2 separate regions of the Homo sapiens genome follow, and region 2 is linked to region 1. The links come from fine-mapping of genetic effects on gene expression. A gene starts in region 1. The other region holds a variant in brackets. All regions are shown on one strand. Distances are from middle to middle. Region 1 holds the start of PGBD5 (piggyBac transposable element derived 5). Region 2 overlaps LOC107985357 (a long non-coding RNA gene).

What was found.
Region 2: its variant is fine-mapped to the expression of PGBD5 in blood mononuclear cells (TOPMed, PIP above 0.99).

Annotation. Positions count from the first base shown.
Region 1 is chr1:230,424,113-230,429,484 of GRCh38, reverse strand. It overlaps PGBD5 (piggyBac transposable element derived 5), which reads left to right and starts at 3,153. Exons shown (of 7, transcript NM_001258311.2): 1 at 3,153-3,887. The coding sequence starts at 3,557. RefSeq lists enhancers at 1,984-2,530, 2,531-3,078 and a silencer at 2,887-3,206.
Region 2 is chr1:230,576,742-230,582,113 of GRCh38, reverse strand. The region is part of intron 1 of LOC107985357 (a long non-coding RNA gene); the gene reads left to right. Among named protein-coding and RNA genes, the nearest start is that of LINC01737, 16 kb to the left of the region's middle. The variant G/A (reference allele first, on the strand shown) is at 2,157.

The sequences.
Region 1 (5,372 bases):
CTAGTTATTGTATGAAAACCTTGGATTAGGTAAAACAAAACAAAACAAAACAAAACAAACAAAACATCAGCATCAAGATCTTATTTCTCTGCTCTATGCTCTCCAGTGCCTCCCCATATCACTCCAAATAAAATCTGAAGTCTTGCAAGATTTAACACCCACCCAACTTCCTCTTTGATTTCATCTGCTACCACTTCTCTCTCAGCTCTGTCATCTGCCTCCTCAGTGCTGGCTGACCACAGCTAGCATGCTCCTGCTTGGGGGACACATAGAGTGGGAGGCCAGTAGCTTGGATGAGTTAGGAGCACTTGTGTAAGAAATGCAGCATACCAAATGCTCTGAGTGACTTGGAGGAGCATATTCTGGAGAAAACCTGGGCATTGACAGCTCTGAGTTAGAAAGTAAACAAGGATAGTGAGATTCTGAATGTGAAATTCGGAAAACTTTAATCAATTAATTTATATTTTATCTGTATGCATGCAATAGAGTGATACGTAATAAAAATCTGTCCAAAAATTATGATCAAATAGCTTTTTCAATAAGTTTAAATTATAATTAGAACAGAAAAGGAACCATTGTATCATAGTTTCCTATGGCAGCACTTTTTTCTTTTTTAGTGATACATAAAACAATGGTTCACTGTACCATGAAAGGAGGTTTAGACTTAATGAAATATGGTGCTTAGCCCTAGTTACATAAAAGCATGAACCATTGGTTTAACAAAACCTAAGGAATCTACTACACAAATGAATTGCTTTTTACTACCTTGAGCTGTTTGGGAAAACCATAAAACCAAAAGCTCAATATTAATCTAAAATTATTTAATTATATTTTATAATTAAATTATTTGGAAGATGTTTTCAAATGACTCAAAGTTAAAAGATCTCAGTGTGATATATATTCTATAATTACTCTCAGAAATGATGTTACTAATAAAAGTTAATGATGTAGAATCATAATCGTCATTATCAAATAGGAGGATGCCAGCCAGAGGAGAAAGCTTTTGTTTTGCAATTGTTTTGTCCCCTCACTCCTTCTCTTACCACAGTGAGAAGCAGTCATCTGTTTTCAAAGGTTGGAATGTTTTTACTTTTCTTGTTTGGAAACTGGCTTAAACAAATGTAAGTGCTATAAAATACTTCACTCTAAGTTGAAATATTCATCTAATTTTTATTGGACAAGCTTTGAAGTAACAATTTGACTTCTCAGTGTTTCTTTTGTGTCCATATAATCCTCTCCTCAGTGTTGCATGTGGTGTGAGCTACAAGCATTTGTGAGCCTAGGAAGCACAAGGCCCCAAGGTTTCCTGGGAATTAGCACCATACAAATGCAAATTAGGGACACCGGAAGACTCTGTCCATCCTTGCCACTGCTGTTGTTTTGTTCCTTGGTTCCTTATGGGTAGCAAAGCAATTCATCGTTTTTAAAACACGTACCTTAGCTGTTGACTTTTTCATTGGCTAGCTGGAGAAGAAAAGAAGGAACTCTTTCCTACAGATTTTAACTCTCTGAATCCCATTCAATTATTTTTTCCATTCAACTATTTAAAATAGATAACATGAAATCTTGCAGGAGCCTCACACAATTCCTAATTGCAGAATTTGAACTTGAGCTATGGAGTCTTACTCTTCTTCTTGCATCTTCAACCTATGCTTTACTATCACCCTTTTTGATAAGTCAGATTACCTGTACTCTCTTCAACAACTTTCAGCTGGTTAGCACAGTATATAGGTATGTTGGAAACCAGATATTTTCCGTGGCATAATTCTTCCAAGAGAGTAAAAATGCTTTGCAAGCACTTCCTCATTTTTCAGCCAATCCACATAGCAAGGAAAGTTCCATGAATCTTTTCCTTTTTATATATTGTCTGTTAGTGATGATCATGAACCTATGCCTGTGCAGAGCCCCTGATGTGGAAGGAGGAACCACAGGGGCTGGGGAGGGGAGGGCATGAGTGAAGGTTCCTGCTCGACACTAGAAGTGACCCCACTTGGCGGCAAAATGGTCCTTCATCCTTTATGCATTCGTAGAAATCGCAACATGCCTTTCTGTTTCATGTAACTACAATTTAGTTAATGCTCAGTAGGATTTGTAAGCCCTTCACATCTCTGAGGATTTATTTTATTTCAGAGTGAAAGTGACTTTATGGCCCATTTACCATTAGTGTGACTTATTGCATTATTCGAAGGAGGAGGAGGGGAGCAAGAAGACAAGGCAGTCTCCGTTACGCGTATCGCCATCAACAGGATGACCACCACACATTCCTGCCCAAGGAAGAGGGGCGGATGCAACCTTTCTGTGCTATTGTTTATGAGAGCACTGAAGCCTGGGTGATCATGCAATATTTCAGTACATGAGTGTTTCAAGTGTGTGTGTGAAGGAGATATTAAAATAGAGGTGTGAGAGTAATTAGTATTTGGAAGTAATGGATATTTTGAGTTCAAAAGATGCCACACGTCAACGATGATGAGGAATGACTAGCTACTTAACTCCAGTGCTGGCACCCTTAAATTACAGGGATACTGAAGCGAGACGGAGTTAGCATCTGACCAGCGACCAACAGTGGACCGGCGAGGCGGGCTCCTAATTAGAGCGAGATTCCCAGAAGCTGGACAGCCCCTGTATTTATGGGAGCATGCGGCGCAGCTGGCAGTGACCCCCAGGAAACCTCGGCAGCAGCCGCCGCCGCGGGTGTGGTGACCTCGGGCCCGCCGCCTACCTGGAGCGTTTCGGCGGCGCCTGGTTCAGAACCACCGGGGCGGACAGCTCCCTGGAGCTGCACGCGGACTGCGGAAGGGGACAGTGAGCGGGATCGGCCCGCACTCCGTCCGCGGGCCCGGACCGCTGGAAGCACCCGGGTCCCCCTCCCCTCCTGTTCCCCGGTCCCGCCCTCCCCCTCCCGCGCTGCGCGTGGCGGTCCCGGGCTGCGCGTCCCTGTAGGAGGAGACCGGCACTGCCGCCGGCGGCCCTCCCCCTAACCGCCAGCCCCGGCCGCGCGCCCCGCCCCGCCCCGCGGAGGAGGGTGGGGGCGTTCCCCGCGCCGGGCCCGCCCAGCTCCCCCGCGGCTGTCCGGGCCGGGCTCCCCATTGGCCGGCGGGCGGGAGGTGAGGGGCGGCAGGGCCCGCCTCTGGCGGCTCGCGCCCGGGAAGGTCGGCAGCCGAGCGCCGGAGGCCGTGGAGAGGGCGGGCAGGGAGGCGGCGGGCGCCGAGGAGACGCAGCGGCGGCGGTGGTGGCGGTGGTGGCGGCGGTGGCGGCGGCGGCGCCTGGTCTCGGCCGCAGCCTCTGCGTCCCGCCCGCTCTGGGTCGCCCCTGCCAGCCCCGCGCGCGGCTCGCCTCCCGCCGCGGCCCGCAGCCTGCGGCGCCCGAGCTCCGAGGGCGCTTCCCCGGGCGCTGGGCCCGAGGCGGCCAAGACGGCGGGCCGGCCGGGCACGGGGCGGCGGGCGCTGTGCTGCGGGCTGCGCTGGTGGGGGGCGGCGGGCCGCGGCGCGGGCCCAGGGCCCGGCGTGTGCGGCTGGGAGGCACTGTGGGGGCGGGCGCGCGGGCGGCGGCCGGGGCCATGGCCGAGGGCGGCGGGGGCGCGCGGAGGAGGGCGCCGGCGCTGCTCGAGGCTGCCCGCGCGCGCTACGAGAGCCTGCACATCTCGGACGACGTGTTCGGCGAGTCCGGCCCGGACAGCGGCGGGAACCCCTTCTACAGCACCTCGGCCGCCTCGCGCTCCTCCTCGGCCGCCTCCTCGGACGACGAGCGCGAGCCCCCGGGACCCCCAGGGGCCGCCCCGCCACCGCCCCGCGCCCCGGACGCACAGGAGCCGGAGGAGGACGAGGCCGGCGCGGGCTGGAGCGCAGCGCTGCGGGACCGCCCGCCCCCGCGCTTCGAGGATACCGGCGGTAAGGGGCTGCCCGCGGGTGGATGTCGGGGGCGGCGCTGGAACCGGGCGCGGGGGAGGCGTGGGTGCTGGGGCGGGCGAGTCCAGACTCTCCGTGGGCTGGCTTGTGGGTGTCTCTCCGGAAACAAATGAGGCTGCAGGAGCGGTGATCGGTCTGACTGCTCCTGGGGGCTCCGAACCCGTGGGTGGAGAGGGTAAGGCGGAGGCCGTGGCCAGCACTTTTCCAGTGACAATGTCGTCGGGGACCTTTTCCTTCACTTCCTGGGAGCACCCCAGCCCCTGCATGGGAAGTCTGTCACACCTGTGGGTCGGACTTTTAGGGGTGGATTGAAGTTAGGCTTTCCTAGTTGAGGGGGCTTTTCTGAAAGCCCGGCGTGGCTGGTGGAGGCAGGGGGAGTCGTTTTTTCACTGACAGCCCAAGAGCAAGCCTTACAGCAGGTGACGCGGGCGAGGCAGGTAGGAGTTGGCCCAGTGAGAGTTGAGAGAGAGGCCACCCGCGGCGTCTTGACTTGGCTTAGTTTTCTCCTTAATCTGAGAAACTTTCCCTGTCCGCGCCATTCCAGATCTCTTGTTAAGAATGGGGAGGAGTGAAGGAAGGGACCGATTGGGCAGCGTTAAGGTGCTTGCTTTTCCGCCAGAAGGTACTTTCAGGTGTGTCCTGCTTACCACTGTGGCCACAGACAAGCCCCGAATACCTGGAGAAGGTGGCTAGGGTGCTGGCAGCTGCGGCTGCCCCACTCCTCTTCACTGTCTGTTTTTGTGGGAGTTGGCTGTTGAAATATCACCACTTCCTCTGCAGAAGCTCCGCAGCCTCTGCCTTCTTTGAAAGCTGCAGACCAGCCGCCCTCTCATGCTGGTATTTCTTGTTCCACGGCCTTCTGTAGCAGGCCCGTGCTCCTGCATGCTGTGTTCTTCCGTAGAAGTGCGCGCAACCGGTGTTGATGAGGGCCAGGGAGTGGCCGCGGTGGGCATGATGCGGCTTTTCCTGTGGCCTTCTCTGATTATTGTTCAACCGGTCAGGAACACGGCACATGGGAAGGCAGGCCCAAGGGACCTCCAGCTGGTGCCTGGACTTGGATCTGGGCATCATGCTGCAGCCTGCTGGGAGGCCGGTAGGGTTAGCTGGACTCTGAGTAGGGAGTGGTCTGCAGACCTCTGGCAGGCTGCGGTGTGGATGCGCGGAGCTAAAGCTGGGCTTGCAAAGTCACAGTTAGCTGTGCACTGCTTTGGGGGTGGGTACATTTTAAAGCATGTGCATTTGGGCTGTAGTTAAGAGCTTGGGAATTTTCAAAATCATTGACTCTCTATAGTCCTTTTATACTGTCCTATATTTTCCAGGATGTCATTAAGGTCTCCTGGCCCTAGACAGCTGTTTTCCTATTGGCTCTTTAAGAATTGTACCAGTCCACAGACCTGGTTTGGCAGACTTTATGCCGTGAGCATCTGTGATGTAATTTCGATCCTGGAACATTTGAGATCCAGGTCC
Region 2 (5,372 bases), 150 kb before region 1:
GAGTTGTTTGGTTTTTGTATGACAGTCAAATGTGTGTAGAAGAGTGTGTATGAAACCTGGGTATTCAAAGGGGTAGTCTGTGCCAGGGGTGCATTTATGGCCTGTCAGCTCTAAATTCACCCTTCAGTACCTGCTGTGCAAAAATGAACTGAGCTTTCAAGCTTTCCTCTTTTATAGCGAACACGATGTTAAGCTTCGTCAGTAGAGGGCAGTGGAAGGGCACTTAGGGAACGTCCTTTCTAGCTGCAGTGGCTGTGCTTTGCTTTTCCTGCACCCGCCGCTCTGACCACCCGCAGTGCGCTCTGTGTGGAAACATCGCTGGTGCTCTGCCCCAGCCACACGTCCAGAGCATGAGCCTCCTAAGGCTTTGCGGTCCTAATTGGGGCCGAGGAACCACGTTGCTGTGTCCCCATCCTCCACCCCCTGCCCAGCCCCGGGACAGACACTGTGCTTCAGGGCTTTGACTGCAGTGTGGCCTCCGCTCCCTCTGCATGCCCCCCACCAGCCTTGGCTGGCTCACACTCAAGAGGCCGGATTCCTGCTTACCAAGTGAAGGCAGAGAAGCTCAGGCCCCAGTAGCCCAGAAACTCCCTTGCCATCGAGGAGTCTGCAACCGCACCTTCTCAGCAAGGATGCAACCTGGGGAAGAAGCGCCCCTCCAGGCAGCCCCTCCTTAGGGCCTTTCTCCCAACCCTCGGGTACCCGTTTTTGTTTTCTTTACATCTTTATAGTTATTCTCCTATAATAGTTTAATAATTGCTTATATTAAACTTCCCCTTTTTCTGTCTCCTGATTGGACCCACACTGATAAGCAAGATGATAATGAAAGGAAGCCCCAGAATGTCAGCTGGGCCGCTGGCCTGTCTGTCAATTCGTTCCAATTACAACAGGAAGCCAGACGGCTCCAAGGAGGGATGTCTCTGGAACAAAATGACAACCGATAGCTTCTCTCATCTCATGGAAAAGTTAACTGAAAAGCTGTAGAGGGCATGGGAAGAATTATCTACACATACATAGAATCATAAGAAAATTAAAATTTACTTCATCATGTAGAAAATTATATTGAGAAGCTACGGAGAAAATGGGAAGAACTGGCTAGAGGCACATAAATGCCTAAGAAAATGAAAGTGATTTCAGCACTTAAATTTAAGCGATGGTTAAATCCATAATTAGCAATTAATTATAAAAGAAAGGAACTATAATATATTAGATGTGTAATTAACAATATGAAGACAATTAAAGTGATTTAACCAAAATTACAATAAACCTGTGATTGAGAGGTGGGGGAATAGCAAACAACAGGTGGGGATAGGGTGGTATAAGAAGCCAAATAACCATGCAATTGCAAATGATATTGGAAGAAAAGGAGGCATTAGCAAAGAATAAGTCTGCCTGTCCAGAAAGCATATCATCGTTAATGGGTACAAAAATAGAGTTAGATAGAGTTAATAAGATCTAGTATCCTGCCAGGTGGGATGCCTCATGCCTGTAATCCCAGCACTTTGGGAGGCTGAGGCAGGTGGATCATTTGAGGTCAGGAGTTTGAGACCAATCTGGCCAACATGGTGAAACCCTGTCTCTACTAAAAATACAAAAATTAGCTAGGCAGTAGTGGCGCATCCCTGTAGTCCCAGCTACTTGGGAGGCTGAGGCAGGAGAATTGCTTGAGCCTGGGAGGCAGAGGTTGTGGTGAGCTGAGATCAGGCCACTGCACCCCAGTCTCGGTGAGAGAGCAAGACCCCATCTCAAAAAAAAAAAAAAAAAAAAAAAAAAGATTCATAGCACAACAAGGTACTACAGTCAACAATAATTTATTGTACATTTTAAAAGAACTAAAAGAGTATAATTGGAACGTTTGTAACACAAAGAAAGGATAAATTCTTGAGGTGATGGAACCCCATTTACCTTGATGTGGTTATTACACATTGTATCCTTGTATCAAAATATCTCAGGTACCATATATATAATATTAAAAATTAAAGCAAATTCAAAGAAAGAAAGCATATCACCACGCTATACCAATGGTGGATACAAGGCAAAGGCCACGCAGAAACAGAACAGAACAGCCCGGATACGTAAGAAAAACAGCAGGAAGCAAAAGGCCACTGTGAGCTAAGGCTTGTAAAAAAAAAAAGCTGACTTTCAAAGTTTGTTTT[G/A]TTTAACAACTTAGGCATTAGACGACCAATTATTCAGCTGAGAGCCACTATTCAGGAGGGCGTTTGATGTGGAGACGTCATGGACAGTTGGAAAACATGCAAACTAGCAAAGGCAACCCAGAAGAACACCACTCGCCGTTCCACTACGCGAAGTTTAACTCTGTGTTTCTGAAGCTTCCACGTGCATGCGGATGACCTGGTGTCCTGTTAAAATGCAGATTCAGAGTCAGTAAATCTGGGATGGAGCCTGAGATGCTGAATTTCTAACAGCTCCCAGGTGGTGCTGATTGCTGCTGTTGGTCTGCTATTCTTTGAGTCCAAGAGTCTGAGTGACTGTAGATCTGCCATGCAACCAATCATTACAAAAAAAAAAAAAAAGATACAATAAGTTGACTGAGACAGGACAGAATATGGGAAACACAGGTGTGTACATAACATTGTAAACCAAAACGTATCTGAGGCAGGTCTCAATTAACTTAGAAGTTTATTTTGCCAAAGTTAAAAACACGCCCAGAAATAAGGATTACAAATTTGTGGGAGCAATCTCTGTTCCATGCCATTTTCCAAAGATGGTTTTGAGGGCGTCAATATTTACAGGGGAAAAGCAGGTGGAAGAGGAAAGAGGGAGAATATGGTCACAGTACAGAACCCACAAGTTGCAAGAGAAAAGGAGCAGGTAAGGGAATAGTCAATTATGAGTTAGTCTTGTGCTCAGTGAGGTGGCACTTTGTATAAGATAAGGTGAATATATAGTAGCTATTTGTGGGGATATTTAACCTTTCATCTGTAGCTATCTGCTTAGGAACAAAAGGATAGACAGCTTCTTGCATGATTCAGCTTTTGGCTTATTTTTTTTTCCTTCTGTCAAAGTGAATTGGGGTTCCAAGATTTTATTTTTCTTTCCCAACATGGGGCTACTTGTCTCTAAGTGCTATAGGGACAATTGGCTCATATGTGCACAAATGCTAAAGAACTCTATCTTCGAAGTGGAGGAGACATGGGAGAGAGCTAAGAAACTTTGTAGAGTCTTAGAAAATTCTCACCATCAAGGAGATGCATGAGAAACCACATAGATGAGAACCACACCCCACGCCCCCCACTGCACTAGCAGTGTTATCAGTGGTGACAACCATCCCCGGTCTAAGAACCAGTGACTTAGAAAATTCTCGTTTCCATGTGGATGGCATTGATAGGTAGATCTGGAAAGTGTACCAGTAATTTGGCAATTTTTCATGACCTGCTTAAGAACAGTGTAAGGAAATATGGATTAGATGCTATTTACAATTAAGTAGAGTAGTCACTGGTTTAATAACCATACCCAAAGGATATTGATTAATTGACTGATGTCCACTTAAAGGAAGGTTTCCAGGACCCTGTGTACAGCTTTTTCATGTTCAAGTAAGGTCCATGATTGGAATGAACCTTGGGATATGAAAGATGTACATCAAGTCTCTTCTGCAAGTGGCAGAAAGACCAATTCAAACAGCCTTAAGCAAAAAGAGAATGTATCTGCTTATTAAAGTCCAGAGCTTGGGTGGGTTTCAGGCAGGTTGGCTACTCAAACTGGGCCCTGCTCTCTACAAGTAAACAGAGAGCCACAGAGTGATGGCGTGGATGTTGTAAAGAAGGATGTACAGAAACAGGGTGCAAAAGGAGGAGGGGTCAGACCCATTTGGTAAGAAACAGCCAGGAAAAACCTCATAGAAATGTCTTGACTGAGTCTTGGGACACAGGAAGACAGTCCTTAAGAAGTCAGGTGAGCCAGGCATGGTGGTTCACGCCTGTAATCTCAGCACTTTGGGTACTGAGGCGGGAAGATCGCTTGAGCCCAGGAGCTCAAGACAAGCCTGGGCCACATGGCAAGACCCTGTCTCCTCAGAAAATAAACAATAACCAGGCATGGTGGTGCACCTGTAGTCCCAGCTACTTGGGAAGCTGAAGCCGGAGCATCACTTGTGTCCATGACGTTGAGGCTGCAGTGATCCATTTTTGCACCAATGCACTCTGGGCAACAGAACAAGACCTTGTCTGGAGAAGAGGAAGAAGAAGGAGAAGAAGAAGGAGAAGGGGAAGGGGAAGGGGAAGAAGGAGGGGAAGGGGAAGGGGGAGGAGAAGGGGGAGGAGGAGGAAGAGGAGAAGAAGGACGAGGAGGAGGAAGAAGATGAGGAGGAGGAAGAAGAGGAGAAGAAGGAGGAGGAGGGGGAGGAAGAGAAGGAGGAGGAAGAAGAGGAGGAGGAGGAGAAGAAGGAGGAGGAGGAGGAGAAGAAGGAGGAGGAAGGGGAGGAAGAGGAGGAGGAGGAGAAGAAGAAGGAGGAAGGGGAGGAAGAGGAGGAGGAGGAGAAGAAGAAGGAGGAGGAGGGGTAGGGGGAGGGCCCGCCAGGGAAGGGGAATGGGCCATCAGGAGGCACCAGTGCGTAGTAATTAGGTACTTACATATGACGTGCTGGAGTCAGAATGCCTAGGTTCAAATCTTGCCTCTACCTTGGGCTTGTTATACTTCACCTTTCTAGCCCTTTGTTGCCTTATCCACAAAATAGGTATATTAGTAAGGTTTTTAAATAATAGCTAACATTTCCTGAGGGTTTATGAGATACCAGGTGTCATGCTTAATGCCTCAGACATGTGTTACATTTACCTAGGAGATAGATATTGTTATTACCCCTATTTTCAGATGAAGAGACTATAGTTCAGGAAGTAACTTTCTCCATCATAGATACAAAGGAGAGACTAAGAATTTAAACTCAGGCAGAGGCAGAACCTGTGCTTTTAGCCATATATTCCTCCAGCTTTCTAGAAAATGTTTGGAAAACAGTTATCTTCATCTATCATCACAAGATTTTCAAACAGGTATTTTCCTCCACGTCTGTCACTCACAATTCAACTTTACTTTCTCTGCAACATCTCTTCAACTCTCTTGAGAAGCTCAGATGAAAACAGCGAAAAGCTGCAAATCCAGCAGAAAATCCTTTTCAAAGGATTTGTCTACTTTATTTTAATCAATTAATTATAGAGACAGGATCTCGCTCTGTTGCCCAGGCCGAAATGCAGTGGTGAGACCATAGCTCACTGTGGCCTCAAACTCCTGGCCTCAAGGGATCCTCCTGCCTCGGTCTCCCAAGTAGCTGGGATTACAGGGGCAAGCCACCACTCCTGGTGGCTCTGTCCACTCTAAAAGTCACATTGGATTACTTTGAAGTGGTCAGACTTCTCATAATG